Linked DNA regions of Homo sapiens: regions 2 and 3 are each reported to be linked to region 1. Evidence: microRNA targets listed by miRTarBase, many of them from high-throughput screens and not tested one by one. Region 1 holds a microRNA gene; each other region holds the end of a gene's coding sequence.

What was found. Region 1 holds the annotated microRNA hsa-miR-4795-5p (AGAAGUGGCUAAUAAUAUUGA, at 1,470-1,490, shown strand). A microRNA usually pairs through its seed, bases 2 to 8, with sites in the 3' UTR of a target mRNA and lowers its output. Matches are read on the target gene's strand: a 7mer-m8 pairs with bases 2 to 8, a 7mer-A1 pairs with bases 2 to 7 and ends in A, and an 8mer does both.
Region 2: miRTarBase lists VPS39 as a target of hsa-miR-4795-5p. Seed matches in the 3' UTR shown: 7mer-m8 at 1,527-1,533.
Region 3: miRTarBase lists CDS2 as a target of hsa-miR-4795-5p. The part of its 3' UTR that is shown has no 7-base or 8-base seed match.

Annotation. Positions count from the first base shown.
Region 1 is chr3:87,222,657-87,227,729 of GRCh38, reverse strand. MIR4795 (microRNA 4795) reads left to right here and starts at 1,453; the gene lies at 1,453-1,541. CHMP2B (charged multivesicular body protein 2B) reads right to left here and starts at 421. Exons shown (of 6, transcript NM_014043.4): 1 at 174-421. The coding sequence starts at 207. RefSeq lists enhancers at 210-329, 400-469, 520-569, 660-719, 830-969.
Region 2 is chr15:42,156,610-42,161,682 of GRCh38, reverse strand. VPS39 (VPS39 subunit of HOPS complex) reads left to right here. Exons shown (of 25, transcript NM_015289.5): 24 at 1; 25 at 854-2,982. The coding sequence ends at 929. PLA2G4F (phospholipase A2 group IVF) reads left to right here and starts at 5,047. Exons shown (of 20, transcript NM_213600.4): 1 at 5,047-5,073. RefSeq lists enhancers at 1,817-2,316, 4,607-5,073.
Region 3 is chr20:5,189,224-5,194,296 of GRCh38, reverse strand. It overlaps CDS2 (CDP-diacylglycerol synthase 2), which reads right to left. Exons shown (of 13, transcript NM_003818.4): 12 at 4,459-4,562; 13 at 1-4,195. The coding sequence ends at 4,063. Among named protein-coding and RNA genes, the nearest start is that of CDS2, 65 kb to the right of the region's middle. RefSeq lists enhancers at 1,197-1,246, 2,020-2,109 and a silencer at 3,678-3,747.

The sequences.
Region 1 (5,073 bases):
GTGAGTCAGAAGCAAGAGGGAGGCAGAGAAGTGGTGCCGCGAGGGCGGTCACCTGTGGGACCACTTGATCCAGCCCCGCCTCCAGGGACAGTAGGCAGAATCGCGGCCAGCAGGCCTCGAAAGACGCCGAGAAAACGCAGAGCTGGGCCCCTTCAGCCCGGCCTGGAACTCACCATCCACGGTTTTCTTCTTGAAGAGGGACGCCATGGTTAAAGACTGCGCCCGGGCGGCCCGGCTCGGCCCGGTCCGGCCCAACGCTGGCAAAGGACAGGAGGAAAAGGACAGGACCTTGGCGGGTTCGGGGTGGCGGAGCGGAGAGACAGCAGGAGGAGGTCGGGGTCGCCAGGCAGGACCCGCGGAAGGCTTGTATCCGCAGCTACCGCAGCCGCGTCACCCGGAGCTCAGGTGACCGGGAACTAACACACTTTTTGGAGAAGTCACTTCTAGGCGGCGCCTGCGCGTTGTGTGGCGCCTGCGCACTACGGAGTTTGAAGCCGCGGCCGCTTTCCTCACGTCTGCGGCTGCCAGTTCCTCCTGCACCGGGAGTTGGCAGCGGGGCGAGTCTGGAGCTGGCGGGGATAGGAGAGCGTGGGGCCACGGCTTCTGTGCGCGGGTTGGGTGATGATTGAGGACAGTGATCAGCCTTGCTTAGCGCTTCACCCCTTGCCCCGGGGAAAGCTGGATGAGGGATCTCCGGGCTCCTAGACTAAGTGTGGGTTGTCCCGGAACCGCCTGTACCCACTCCGAGTTGATTTATTACGGTCCCATTGCTGTTAGTATTTTTGTTGTTGTTGTTGTTGTTGTTTGTTTGTTTTTACTCGAGTAATCCAGGAACTGGCGGAAACGTTGAGTTCCGTACCCGGTGATTGTTGGCCCCTGGAGTTCGCGGTCCTTTCGGCACTGACTGACTCGGCGACCTCCCCCGCACCGCGCAGACCCCTGCAGGACCCTAGCCGCTCACCTGCCGCCCCCGGCTCCAGACTCCGACGACCCAGCGTGGGTCTCCGGGGATCCAGTGTCTAGAGTTGGGGGGGTCTCGAGGACGAAGGGAAGTTTTTTAATGCTACACTTTTTGTTTAAGGTTCTTGCCTGGAAACATTAAAACACACACACACACACACACACACACACACACACACAAATTTGTAGGCTGGTCTAAATGTCTCCAGCTCTATTTCTTAATTTCTTGTAAATCATGAATCATAAAGTGTCATGGCTATACGGTGATCCTATTAGAATTCCTCACAGCCGTTTATTTGGGCTTTTTGTGAAAAACTGCATATCATGTTAAAGAAAAAATGTAATGAATTATTTAAAGAATCCTTGCATGTATAAAATGGAAAATACAACCTATGCGTGCGTACCTGTATATAGTCTCTACTGTTTAAAGCAACACTGCCTTCCACAGGATAAAAATAATGGTAGCATTTTTTTTTTCATAAATATTATCTCTGATATGGAAGAAATCCAGAAGTGGCTAATAATATTGACACTATAACAATAATGTCAATATTATTAGCCACTTCTGGATTTATGAATCATGTCTCAAGGATTATTATTTATGATAATCAGGCCAGCCTTTCCCATTTTTCCCCTCCTGAGATATCCAAGCCCTCATAGCCACTGATAATGCTGCTGCTGCTGCTAAAAGTTAGCTGAGAGTCTGTTCAAGAAAACTTTCTTAAGAATGACGTAGTAATATGCAAGATATAATTGTTTTGCTTCTCCTCAAGTTATTCTCGATATGGGAAGATGAAGTAAGGAAACATTAGGAAGACATGTAAGTGAGAAGATTTAGTCTCTGCACTCAAGACCGGGCCTTTTCTGGAGTGAGCTCTATGGCAGTTTGCCCTGGCTGTCTGTTGTAATGAATGGCATAGAGCTGTGCTTGAACGCATGAGAGGCAATAAGCTGTTATGTGTGTAGTAATCGTACTCCTCCCTGCTGCAGTCACCCTTGTTTTATTACTCCTATACAATCCCCCCCACTGACCCAATTGTAACAGTTGGGAAAATGCCAAAATACTTAGGAGCAACCATATGGAAGACCCTCCAAAAGTGCACAGCAGGAGCTAAAGACAGGGCTTGTTCATTACAATAAAGACAAAATAGAAATATTTACTATTTAAACTCAGTACTCTAATAGCTTGTTCTCCCATAGTTTGAAGAAGGCTGATATTCAGCTGATTGCACCAGTCTAGCTAGAGTCCATTCTGATTAGTTGGTGGCCACATTTCTCCTGTACACATTTTGTATTATTATATCGCTCCTTATTTAAAGGGCATGATACACTTAAATATATGTTGTTTTCTGGAGTATTTCATAACATAGTTTCCTCCTCTGAAACTGAAATATTTGCCATTTTTTCATCTTTGGGTACCTCGGGTTATAATTTGAATGGGTGCATTCTTCTCCTTGTTCAGCTTTTGAAGAAAGATAGCATAACATTGGAGAGTGCTGATTCTGGACACAGACTGCCCAGTTCTGTGACCAATTCTGTGACTTTTAAGTTTTAAGACCTAGGCCAGTTCACTGAAGCTCTCCGTGTTTCTTTCATCACATATGTGATAGAGATAACATTAGCCCACCTTTCATATATTAGGTTGGTACAAAAGTAATTGGCGAAAACCACAGTTACTTTTGCACCAACCTAATAGCTGTTGCAAGGATTAAATGAGTTAATATGTTAAACATTCAAAGTAGTGCTTGGCACGTAATGTCTTAGCCCCTCTGTGCAGCTACAACAAAATACCACAGACTGGGTAATTTATAAACAGTAGAAATTTATTTCTCACATTTGTGGAGGCTGGGGAGTCCAAGATCAAGGAACCCAGAGGTTTTGTTTCTGGTGAGAGCTGCTTTCTGCTTCCATGATGGTACCTTGCTGTTGCATCCTCAAGAAGAAAGAGATGCTGTATCCTCACATGGCAAGAAGGACAGAAGGGTAAAAGGGCGGTAGGCAGCTCCCTCACACCTGTTTTATAAAGGAACTAATCTCATTCATGAGGGCTCCACCCTCATGACTTAATCACATCCTAAAGTTCCCACCTCTAAAAACTATCACATTAGTGATTAAGTTTCAACATATGAATTTTTGGGGGGTACATTCACACCATATCACATAATAATCATTTTTGTATTATCTGTATTGTTGTTTCCAGCTGTTTTACCTTTTTATGCTTTCTCAAGTAATCTTCATGCTGAAATTCTCTTCTCTGTAGTACAGAAAACACAAATTGAAGATTTAGGCTTTCTGATGCTGATCTTGGTTACCTTCACCTTAACAGCCACCACCTCCCCAAATTAGCCCATTTCTTTCTCCTTAATAAAAAAATGGTTTTATTCTCAGCAAACTAACACAGGAACAGAAAACCAAACACTGCATATTCTCACTCATAAGTGGGGGTTGAGCAGTGAGAACACATGGACACAGGGAGGGGAACATCACATGCCAGGGCCTGTCAGGGGGTGGGGGGAAAGGGGAGGGAGAGCATTAGGACAAATACCTAATGCATGTGGGGCTTAAAACCTAGATGATGGGTTGATGGGTGCAGCAAACCACCATGGCACATGAAGACCTATGTAACCAACGTGCACGTTCTGTACATGTATCCCAGAACTTAAAGTAAAATAAACAAATAAATAATAAGATAATGGTTTTCTTGTTCTTAAATCTGTTATTTGTGTAGGAATTGACTTGTTATAGAAATATGTATCTAACATTGGTACTGGAAGGATTCGGTGCAGATTTGTTTCTGTTTGTCTTTTCTCCTCAGCTTCAATTTTAAACTCCTTGGGTTCAGAGAGAATCTCTTGTCAGGCCCTTCAATAATTTTCCTACTAGAATGTAAATATATTTAATAGAAACTTAATATGCAATCGTATTTTCATATTATCCATGTTTCAATGTTTTAACGCCAAATGACAAGTATATATATATACATTTGGTACATTTTTGTTGATTTGACACATTTAACTTCAAGTCTCTTTATATATGAAAAGCAGCTAACATTATCTATCTCCATGAACAACAGTAGAGATCTAGAGAACCTAAAAGTCAATAAATAATTCTGTATGTATGTAAGGATTTAGCGAAAACATCAACTCATTTGTTTCATGTTTCACATGGATTCAAATTTGAGCATACTTTAAGCTGTTTTGCTATTTCACTAACTACACTGTATTCTGCTTTATATTTAATAATGCTACAGTGACTATCATGATGCTACATGATTATCATAAACAAAATTAAGAATAAAACATTAACCTATATAACATTGAAAAATTTTTTAGAGATATGTAGAAGCTTAGCACAGAGAGAATCATCATTTTTCAAGTCTAAAATATCTCATTTCTTATAAGTGACTTCATCTATTCAGGCTGTTATAGCAAAATACCTTAGAGTGGGTAATTTATAAACAGATTTATTGTTCACAGTTCTGGAGGTTGGGAAGTCCAAAATAAAGGTTCTAGCTGGTCCCACATCTGGTGAGGGACTGTTTTTCATAGATATCACCTTCTGTGTGTCCTCACATGGCTAGAGGAATGAATAAGTGTATTAGTTCATTTTCATGCTGCGAATAAAGACATAACTGAGACTGGGTAATTTATAAAGAAGAGAGAACTCACAGTTCCACATGGCTGGGGAGGCCTCACGATCATGACCAAAAGCAAGGAGGAGCAAAGTCACATCTTACATGGTGGCATGCAAGAGCACGTGTGCAGGGGAAATTCCCTTTATAAAACCATCAGATCTTGTGAGACTTATTCACTATCATGAGAACAGCAGGGGAAAGACCTGCCCCCATTATTCAATTACCTCCCACCAGCTCCCTCTCACAACGTGGGAATTATGGGAACTATAATTCAAGATAAGATTTGGGTGGGGACACAGCCAAACCGTATCAATAAGCTTCCTCATACCTCTTTTGTAAGGGCAGTAATTCTATTGATAAGAGTGGAGCCTTCATTATCTAAACACCTCCAAAAGCTCCACCTCTTAGTACTAGCACAATATGAATTATGTTTCAACATTTAAATTTTGGGGGGACACAAACATTCAGCCCATAATAAG
Region 2 (5,073 bases), not on the chromosome of region 1:
GGTGAGCCTCCTTCACACCTGTGTGGCATCTGGGCTTTGTGGAGGTTCCCAGGGGTGGAGAACGCTCAGGATGGATTTCTGCCCTTTAACAGAGAAGGAGAACATGGCTGCTGGCTGTCCTGACAACTTTTAGTTCTTGAGCCTTCAGAGAGCAGCCTGTTCTATCTGTTGGGAGTGGGCTTCGAGAATTTAAAGACCTGCAATGTATGGTATGGAGCTGTTGGATTCTTGTCCATAAAACTCTTCCCCTCTTGAAGCTAGAACCTGATATAGTGGGTGCCCAAGAGATGTAGGTCTGCAGAAAGTTCTTATAAGGAAGATCCAGTGAAGGAAGAAAAAGATCTTTCAAGCTACTGCATTGTGACTCAAGTAGGATCCTGAGCCAGACTCATACTGTGTTAAGACATATACTCTAGTTAGTCCCCTTTTCTTCAAAGGAGAGTGATTTGTCTCTTATGTAGCTGGAAAAATATTTTTCTTTAGAAAGACAAACTCGCCGTCCTTTTCAGAATTAGCCTGAAACCTGTTCTGATGAACATTGTTGGCTCTCAGGAAGCCAGGGCTGAGCTTTGGGCTGGTGCACTGCCCATCTTTAATATGCCTTGTGTTTTGCATAATAAAAAAATACCCCATGCACTCTTAACTGTGTGCACCTCATCCTCTGTTTGGTTATTTGACAGAGATGATGGCTACAGAAATCCAGAGCCCCTCAGGCAGGCTGTTCTTTGAGGTTTGGGTGGGCTGCTTTTGGAATGGCCCCCCAGCAATGTGCCTCTTCTGTAGGAGGTGCCGCTGCCAGAGAAGTGGTCACTTAGAAGCAGTCCTCACTCCCAAGCCATTTTCTTCCCTGCAGTGCATTTGCAAGATACCCCAATGGAGTGGTCGTCCATTACTTCTGTTCCAAAGAGGTAAACCCAGCTGACACTTGAGCCCAGCATCCTGGGGATCCAGCGGATGGACAGCTTGGCTCTCCCAGAGAGGTGAAGGAGCACCTGGCCTTAGGAATCCTGGCTGCCACCACCACAAGGCTCCCCATTTGGACATTACTGGCTATCTTGTGCCCTGGAACAACTCTGAATTAATTAGACTCATGGTCTGGCATTGCCAGCTTTTTAATGGGAAAAGAGATTAGTTATACCTTATACCATTATGTTGTGGGCAATTCCAGAGAATTCAGTACCTGCTTGGTCAGGAGGATGTGCACCATCTTGCCTTTGCACACCAGTCACCTGAACAAGGAAACTTGTCACAAGTGTTTGTAACCATGGGGTTGTTCATCAAGGGCTTTTCTATTAAGTACATGACTTCACAAGGACCGCTCAGCATGGCTCACTGGAGAGTTCCATGAGAGAACAGCACTCAAGCTTCTGGCCGCATGGACCCGATGGCTCGCATTCTGTGTAGTGTTTTACGTCTCCATGGTAACTGTGCCCTGCACCCCTCGGTAGCCGCCCTGTTAGTTTTCAGTCTCCTTTTCTTTCTCACCATTTATCACTTCCCTCACTGCCCTACCCAGGCTTTCTCTCCCACTTCCCTGACTCTGGGAATAACTAATATTTAAGCAAGGTAAGATGAGAAGCAAGGGGTCTCAGTTCTAGGAATACAGTGCTAGTTGATTGTCAGGTATGTTGTAAATAGACCCTCTTTGGCCATACACTCCATGCCTAGATGCCTCGGAGAGCATCATTCTCTGCCTAGGCAAGGCCCTGCATCCCTTGCCTCAGGCCGGGCTGAGTGTGACTGCAGCTCCTGAGGATGGGCCTGCCCTGTCTGGGGTATGCGTGATCCCTAGATACATGTTCCCACAGAGGTGCCTGCTCCGTCTTCGCTCACCAGACACTCAGGCAGGCTGGCTTAGTCTTTGTGCGTGGCGATTTTGTGCTCTGGGCCCTTTCTCTTTTTCCAGCCAGTTTCCATTCACTTGCCTTACAGCCTGCCCTGGCCGTCACTCCCCAGCTTTGTTCAGCAATGGTGTGGTTGGAGAGTTGTGCTGGGATAGCGCAGGAAGGTGGGTCCCGGCAACACGCAGGGGATGAGTGGACCTGGAACTGACAATGGCGTGCTGCCAAGTGTTCCTGAGAGGTGTTTAGGCACAGCAGAGGGGACGCGGGGGGCAAGAACAGCAGGACGCTGGTTTAAAAATAACTCACCGCCAAACCTGTGGAGCAGTGTGGGGCATCCTGCCAGAGGTGCACAGGCTGGAGTTTCAGGCACTGCAGGCTGATGACACACAGGGAGAGTGGCCCTGCCTCCTGTCCTCCCCGGGGTTTTTGCAGACTCGAAGTCTCACTGCACCAGTGTCTTTGATGGTGGTGAGGGTGGGTGATGGTGCCCAGCACCAACAGTTTTAGTGGCCTGTCCTTGACCTGCCGTGGTCCTTTGTAAACTATGGCTCCATGCTGTGTGACAGATCAACGTGCTGATGGTAAGTAGACTAGGCTTCCCCAGGCATGCCGTCCGTGGGGGCCTGAAGAGACAGTGAGTGCCATTGGCCCCATTCGCAGATGTGGGAGACTCTGCTCAGGCCTGTGAGGCTGGGCAGCCCTTCACCAGAGTTCGGAGGAGCAGTGTGTGGCGCCACGTCCCGACTGGCCATACCCACACAGAAGCAGTGCTGCCCGGGGCCTCATCTGGGCCAGCTTGGACTCTGCTTCCTCCAGGAGCAGCAGGGAAGCTCTGGGCCACCTCCCTGGATAGCAGGAACTTGACCTGCCATGTGTGCCCTGCCTTCCTGGCCAGCTGTGCTTGTTATCTTCCATTCTCACAAACTGTCTTTGAAGCAATAGAATAAAGAATGTGTGTTTTCTTTCCTGGTATACATACATGATCCCATGCTCCCAAGCTCCATTCTTCCTTCCCTCAACTCTCTGCCCTCCACAGAGCTATGGAGAAGGCTGGAGATGAAAGCTTTGTAGTGAGGACTGATAAAGATCTCATCACTGCTCCTTATAATAAACCTAATAAAGCAAGAAACCAAGCCTATCTGGGTCTCTTATTTCTCCCTCCCGTGGAGTTTGATGAAAATAACAATGAAAAGATAGTAGTTTAGCAAAGAACTTAGAAGAATAAGCCAATTAGTGACCAAGAAAAAATGAATATAATACTTGCATTACAAATGCCACGTGGTACAGCCAGTGTGGTCATGGCTGATGAGTCAGCAGCACAGATACGGAACACATCCATCATTACAGAATTCTGCGGGACACACTGGCGTCTGGGAGATCCAAGTGTTTTCCCCCATCATGTAGTAGCACCTGGTGCCTCTTCCTGCAGCCCATGATGAAGGAATTGGGATGGAGGGACGCAGAGGTGTTTGGGAAGTGGAGAAGTGTTGGTTCACTTTGGCCAACTCCAAAGAGAAAATGTAGTCCTTGTTGTCTCTGTCCCATCTGGCACTAGGGGCAATGACTTTATTGTGCAGTGGGGCCGATGACTTCCAGAAGAGGATGGTACAGCCAGAAAGACACATCAGTCAGGAGCTAGAGCCCCAGCCTGGTTCTGCCCCCAGCTAGCTCTGTGCCCTCTCCTCTTGTATGGATCCGCAGGTCCCCTGCATACATTCACAGCTATCACCAACTGCCAGACTCTCATTTCTTAGAGCCCAGGCCAAGTCTTGGCTTCACAATCCAAATAAAGCAGAAACAGGCCCTTCTTTGGGGCCTGGTCACTGGCAGTCACACATTCCTTTTTTGGGGGGAGTTTCTGGTCTGAACTTGCCCATTCGGTTCATTTTGGAGTTGAATCACATCTTTTTTGGATGTTGTATTTTTCAGCCTGTGACTCTAGGCCTTGGGAAGAGTGGAGATGACTGAATCTTAGTTGAGGGACAGAAATTCTCTCCCTCCCACAGTTCACGGCCCCCGAGATCCTCACTCTTCCTGGAGACTGTGCCTGTCTCAGCCACCTTGATGGTTGTGGTCCACAGAAGAGCGAACATCACATCCATCTGCAGCCTAAGGCCTACGATGGCCAAAGAGAATGCTAAAGCCTGTATATCTGGTCGCTGAAGGATACGTAGACTTGTTGTTTGGCCTGTCCTTATTTATAACCCCCTGCCCATATGCCTGTCTGTACCTGGACACTGTACACTGACCCAGGAAGCGAGCCTGGGCCAAAGCCACAGGGAGTCATGAGACTGAATTTCTCCAGGATGTGGATGGGCCCGCCTCACCTCTGTCACCTTTGCGTTTCTGGGCCTAGCACAGGTCTGGCACCCACCAGGCTCTTGGTGTTTGGCGAATTAATGAGGGTGGTCAGGAGAGATTAAAAACATCTTTGATGAGTTCATGTCCTTTGTAGGGACATGGATGAAGCTGGAAACCATCATTCTGAGCAAACTATCGCAAGGACAGAAAACCAAACACCACATGTTCTCACTCATAGGTGGGAATTGAACAATGAGAACACTTAGACACAGGGCGGGGAACATCACACACCGGGGCATGTCGGGGGGCAGGGGGCATGGGGGAGGGATAGCATTAGGAGAAATACCTAATGTAAATGACGAGTTAATGGGTGCAGCACACCAATATGGCACATGTATACACATGTAACAAACCTGCACGTTGTGCACATGTACCGTAGAACTTAAAGTATAATTAGAAAATATATATAAAGAGAGAAACATCTTTGATCCCAGATGAAACACTGAAGCAGAGATTTCTAGGCTTCAGCTTAAGAGCCGCAGGGAAGGTGGGACTTGAAGGGTGGCTAGTTTCAGGCCTTTTCCACAGCTGGAGGAGACTCTTCCCTGATTTGCACTTGCCAGCTGGTCTCTGGGCCAGCTGTGCCAGCTTCACCTAGAGGTCTTGTTGGAAATAGCTCCGGTGTCTATTTTTCACAAACAGCCCAGTGATAACCAGGGCGCTGGGTTTGGGAACAAGAGTGCTAACCAGAGACCCCAAGAGTCTCTTGGAGAGGGACTGAGCTGCCTCCTGCCTGGGGAAATTAAGCTCCAGTCACTTCCTGGAGCATGTCAAACTCCACCTCCAGCAGGCCATCCAGCCTGAGTTCTCTGCAGAGCAGGCAGCTCCACCCTCCCAACTCAGTGCTGCCTGTCACACCTGAGCCAGC
Region 3 (5,073 bases), not on the chromosome of region 1:
GTGGCACAAGGCCCCCACCCAACAAGAGAAACTGAGTCAGGAAGTGAGAGCTGTTCATCTCTTTAAAAACTGGAAGCTGGGCAGCTGCGTGCAGGGTGATCAAGGGAAAAGGAAGTTTGTTTTGACCAAGTCAGGGAAGAATACGGGGCTCTGCCTGAGTATTAGCCATCATCTTCAGGCCAGAGTTTGTTCCACCTGCTCTTTGGAGTCCAGTGTTCCAAAGCACAAGTGAGAGTCCATCCGCGGCTTACTGTCTTGCAATGTGTCCATAAAAGTCACCTGGACATCCTCCCCACCCTGACCTCAGAAGAACAGAAACCTGTTCAAGTGAAATTGTCCTCCCAACTCCACCCTTTTCTTAGCACATAATCACAGTGTGCAAGAAAGGTGGGCCCAGATATGTTACTCTGGAAGACAAAAGACAATAGTGCCTAAGATATTACTAAAACAGGAAAAGGCTTCAGCAGTGACATACCACATTTAGTAGGGTGATGAAAATCTACCCCCTTGGACATGCAACTAGGACTGGCTTTGTAACTAACAAGACCCCTGCTTCACAGTTTTCTGAGCAAGGACACTCTGTCTCAAGTCACTTATACTCTCCCACTACCCGACTCTGTCAATAGTGGAGATGAACCTGAGCTTTGGGAAACATGGTCCCCATACAAACAGGTGACAAGGGCTGAGCCAAGGGCTCACTGACAGTGTGAAGATCTCAACTCAAAGATCCATTCAAATAAGGCTCCAGTCAACTCAGCAACTAGCTCAGACCAAATCACAAGGTCTGTGTAGTCTCCCTTAAAACATATTTTTGGGATTTTCTTGCATAATATAGGTCAAGTTACAGTGGAAAAAAATTCTATAAAAATGGATTCAAAGTCCACCTGTGTAAAGTCAAAAGTTGTATCCTCCCCAATGAAAGAGATTAGTTTCAAAGGATGTGAAACTAGTTCTCATACATTATAGGGCTGTACAATACTAAGAGTAATTACATTTTAAATGCAAAATACTGTAGCTACTAAAATGCCCAGAATATGAAACAAGTTGCCTAAGAGGGTTTCACTTTCAGGAGTAAAACATAAATGGAACCTTTCTGAATACTAAAAGCAGTTAAGAGGGCAGCATGCGCACACACAAAAGGCAAAGACTCGGTACCCTGTGAGCGGTCATGAGCAGAGCTCCCAGGGGCTGGGGGGTGCCCATCAGCCCTGGTTTCTATGACCCCCTTGTTCCACCAGGCAGGAGCCAACAGCAATTTAAGCTCCAACCTGGCTCAGGCCAGGCCTCCTGAGCTAGAGGGAAGGAAAGCTGCAACACCTCGGTGTACTCACACGACGTTCACAAAAGCAAGCAGGGCTGGGGGACCCTCCAGGTGTCCTGTGGGTAAAGTGCAGGATGGAGTGAGTCCTGACTCCACCACACTATCCTGGGGAAGCTCCCTGCCTGGTAAGGTGCTCATGACTCTCACCCGAGGTAAGAAGGCTGTTGTGAGAATGTAGGGATACAAGTTGGAAAGCAAAGCAAAAGTCTCTGAATCAGGACTATGCAGTATTCATGAATACATAAACAAATGAGAAGCATAAAACCATGCATGGAAGTGATAAACAGGGAATTCACGACAAGGGAGGGCACACAGTTGCAGTCACATTTTATTTCTGACCAATAAAAAAAAAATGGGTCTAAAGCAAGTGATGCCATTCATGAAGATTTGAATGTACACACGTAAAAATGGTTTCTTGAATCTTGTCTGTGAATAGGAAAGAGAAACATTGTGCTATATGGACACAAGGTGGCAGTGCTCTCCTAGCTACCTGACAAAAAATCCTCATCTCCAGAAAGCATGCAGGAGAAATCAGAAAATAAAACACAAGCTGACCCTCTGGCCTGCCTGCTAGCAGCTCTAGTGCGCACTCAGCTTCGGCTTCCTAGACCCCCCTTCCCCACCCCACCCCCACCAAGTAACCACTTCCACAAAGGAACATGATGAGCCTTGCCCAGTATGCTCGGCTCCCTGATCCCAAAGGCAGCCCTATTCAAGAGCAGGTCTCTGCAGCCAGGCCCCAGCTGAGACTCCCTCCTCTCAAGGAGCCCACCATATGCCCACAATGGGACAAAAGAGACAAATGAGGAGCCCTTTCGGTATCTAGTTTGGTGATCCAGGTTCATTCTTCAATCTGAAAACTACAGTTTCGTTATTGATCACCTTTACTGTTCGGGTGTGCTGCTGAGATACCTACTCACCTTAAGGATAAGCATGTAAGGGCCTGAAAACACTTCCTGTTTGGGGGGTGCCCAGGACCTCACTTAATGAGCCTCTACCGGCATGAACTTGCTCAGCCAGAATCACAGAAGAGTGGAATTGGGAGTAGCTCCGAAAAAGAGGCCCTGGAGAGTGATGCATCCTGCCAGTGACACAGCCAATACTGAAATGAAAGCCCTTGCGATAATATGTTTTGTTTTTAAGGGGCCTTGGACCTGAATAAGAGAAGCCACGAGGCTGAAATGGAAATAAAAGTTCAGCGGAAAGAAGCCGCTTCAGCCCCACACACATATGGGAAGTCACTCAAGGATGTGTGAGCTGAAACATCCCGAGGGCTCCATCCTCTGCTGGACACTCTAGAGACCTGGGCTGACTGTGCACTTTCAGGGAGGCAGTGAGGCTAATTTACAAACAAAAACACCACAAACCAGCACTAGACCAAGGTGCAGAAGCAAATCATTACACCCTCGTTGGCAATGAAAACATCCACGGCACGGAATAGTTTGATATATTTGGGTGCCAAGTTCTCTCTCCCGCACTCCATCACTTGTTGGCCTGACAAAGAACTAATCTGTCTTCCCAAAGTCAATCTCACCCCTGAAATTAGGGAGGGGAAAAAAAATCACAGTTTAAGCAAACAACAACAACGAAAGGTCCCCCAGTACAATACAAACTACATTTAAACTGGTCACATTATATAAAAAGTGTGCATTTAATCTTCAAAATAGTCAAGGCTCTAATCAGGTTAGGTTTTCCATAGTTTTAAGCAGGACTTTGTGGTTTTAGTGAAGAAGTCATGGTGCAATTGAAATCACTGTAAGAAATAAGTGACTTTTAAAACAAACACAGACACACACACTCCTCTTAAGAGTAATATATACACAACACAGCAGCTACATGGGTGTTCAGGCAAAGGGTGCATGAACGAGAAGCCCTCTGCTCCCTGCCCGATGAGAAAGTCCCCAGAAAGGATTCAGCAGCAGCAAGTCTACAGCACAAACATGGATGGCATTGTCCCTGAAAACACACAGTTAGGTGGACCTACAGGAGACATTGGAGCCTAGACATGTGGGAAAGGGCTCAGTTACAGTACATTCTACTGCATACACTTGAAATATTACAGTGTGTTTTTTCTCCAGACTATTATAAATAATTTTTCGTGCTTTCTGAAAAAAATAAAAACTGAAACTTTCAGTCTGCGATGAAGGTGAACCCATCTTATAAAGCAGAGCTTACTTACATTCTGCAGGATTTTGGTGTGGATGCATAGAAGGCTTACCTGGTTAGTAAGCCTCCATTCCTCCGACCTACAGAAGGCAACCCTTCTGCAGCTCCAAGCAGGGATTTCTAGAAAAGACCAGGTGTACAAAACATCTAAGCTGTGCCTCCCACCACAGGTGGGGAAGTCCCCTGATTTGGTCAGACACAGATGAATGTCTGTGTCTGACTGAGCCCAGAAACAGTTCAATTGATGGGGGCTGGAACCACCAAGAAAACACTCCTGACCTGGGCAACACTGTCTTCCAGATTATTAATACTTTTGTTTTAAAAAAATCCAAATGGTTTTACAACCCGTGACTTCTTTCCAACTCAAAGCTGTAGTTTACTTACAACACAAATTCTAAACACATAGACTGTATATACAGATTTTTTGAACCCACAAATAAAAAATACCCTCCAAAAAAAAAAAAAAAAGACAGTGAGTTGAAGCCTCGTCATTGTCTAAGTCACACCAGCTGGGCTTGCCTTGGAGACCTGCCCCTGCTCAGTTCTGTTCCTGTTCTCCTGGCCCTGGGTGGCCCCTACTCGTCCTCTGTGGTGGATGTCAGCATCCCTTTGTCGATCAGATGAGACCGCAGCGTGTTGAAGATGTGGAGCTGCTGATCTGGCCGTAAAGTCAGGAACTGCTGAATCAGTTTGCTTGGGTTAGGGCCTCTGGAACAGAATGTGAAGAAACAGCACTGAGCTAGGGCCCGGAAGCTTCCAGGGCCTGATTATCTGAGTGGCTGCTCTGATCTCTGGATCAGAGAGTTATCTATTAACAGATGACAGGAGGCCTCAGAAAATCTGTAAGCAGAAACAACTGAAAACTGCATTATTTGGGATGCTTTTCACTGGAACTTAGATGCCGCTAAAATTCTAGAATTGCACCGTACTTAAAAATCCACCAACTTGGTTCAGATGGAAAGGTACTATACCTGATAAAACTGGCGATGTATACATTGACAAAGGTGGCCATCAGATACTGGCAGTCAAAGCGATCCATGATGCCTCCATGGCCAGGAATGGTATTGGCAAAGTCCTGTTAGAGGCAGGGGAAGGATGGGTGAACTTGGGCTCAGCCACTAACCAATCCCAGCCTAATGGTCCCACCCCAATGTCAGGCTTCTGTGCTGAGTAGCTGAGGGCAATAGAAGGTGAGAAGTATGAAATCTAATGGTGAGGCTATATTAGGACACAATTTTATTGCATTACAAAATGTTCTTATTTCATTTACTTAATAAAGACAGGAGTCTTGCTATGTTGCTCAGGCTACTTTCTAACTCCTAGCCTCAAGTGATCCTCCCGCCTTGGCCTCTTAAAGTGCTGGGGTTACAGACATGAGCCACTGCCTGGCCCAAAATGTTCTTTTGAAGAAAGATATATTAACAAATAAACTGAAAAACAACGATTGCATTTTCCTGAAAATATTGTTATTAATTAACTCACCTAAATTCAGTGCATGGGTCAAGATCACACATTAAATGCCAGGGTGTACAGCCTAGTATTTTGGAGGGGGCAGGGAAGGGGGAGAAAGGCAGAAGATGGGTGAG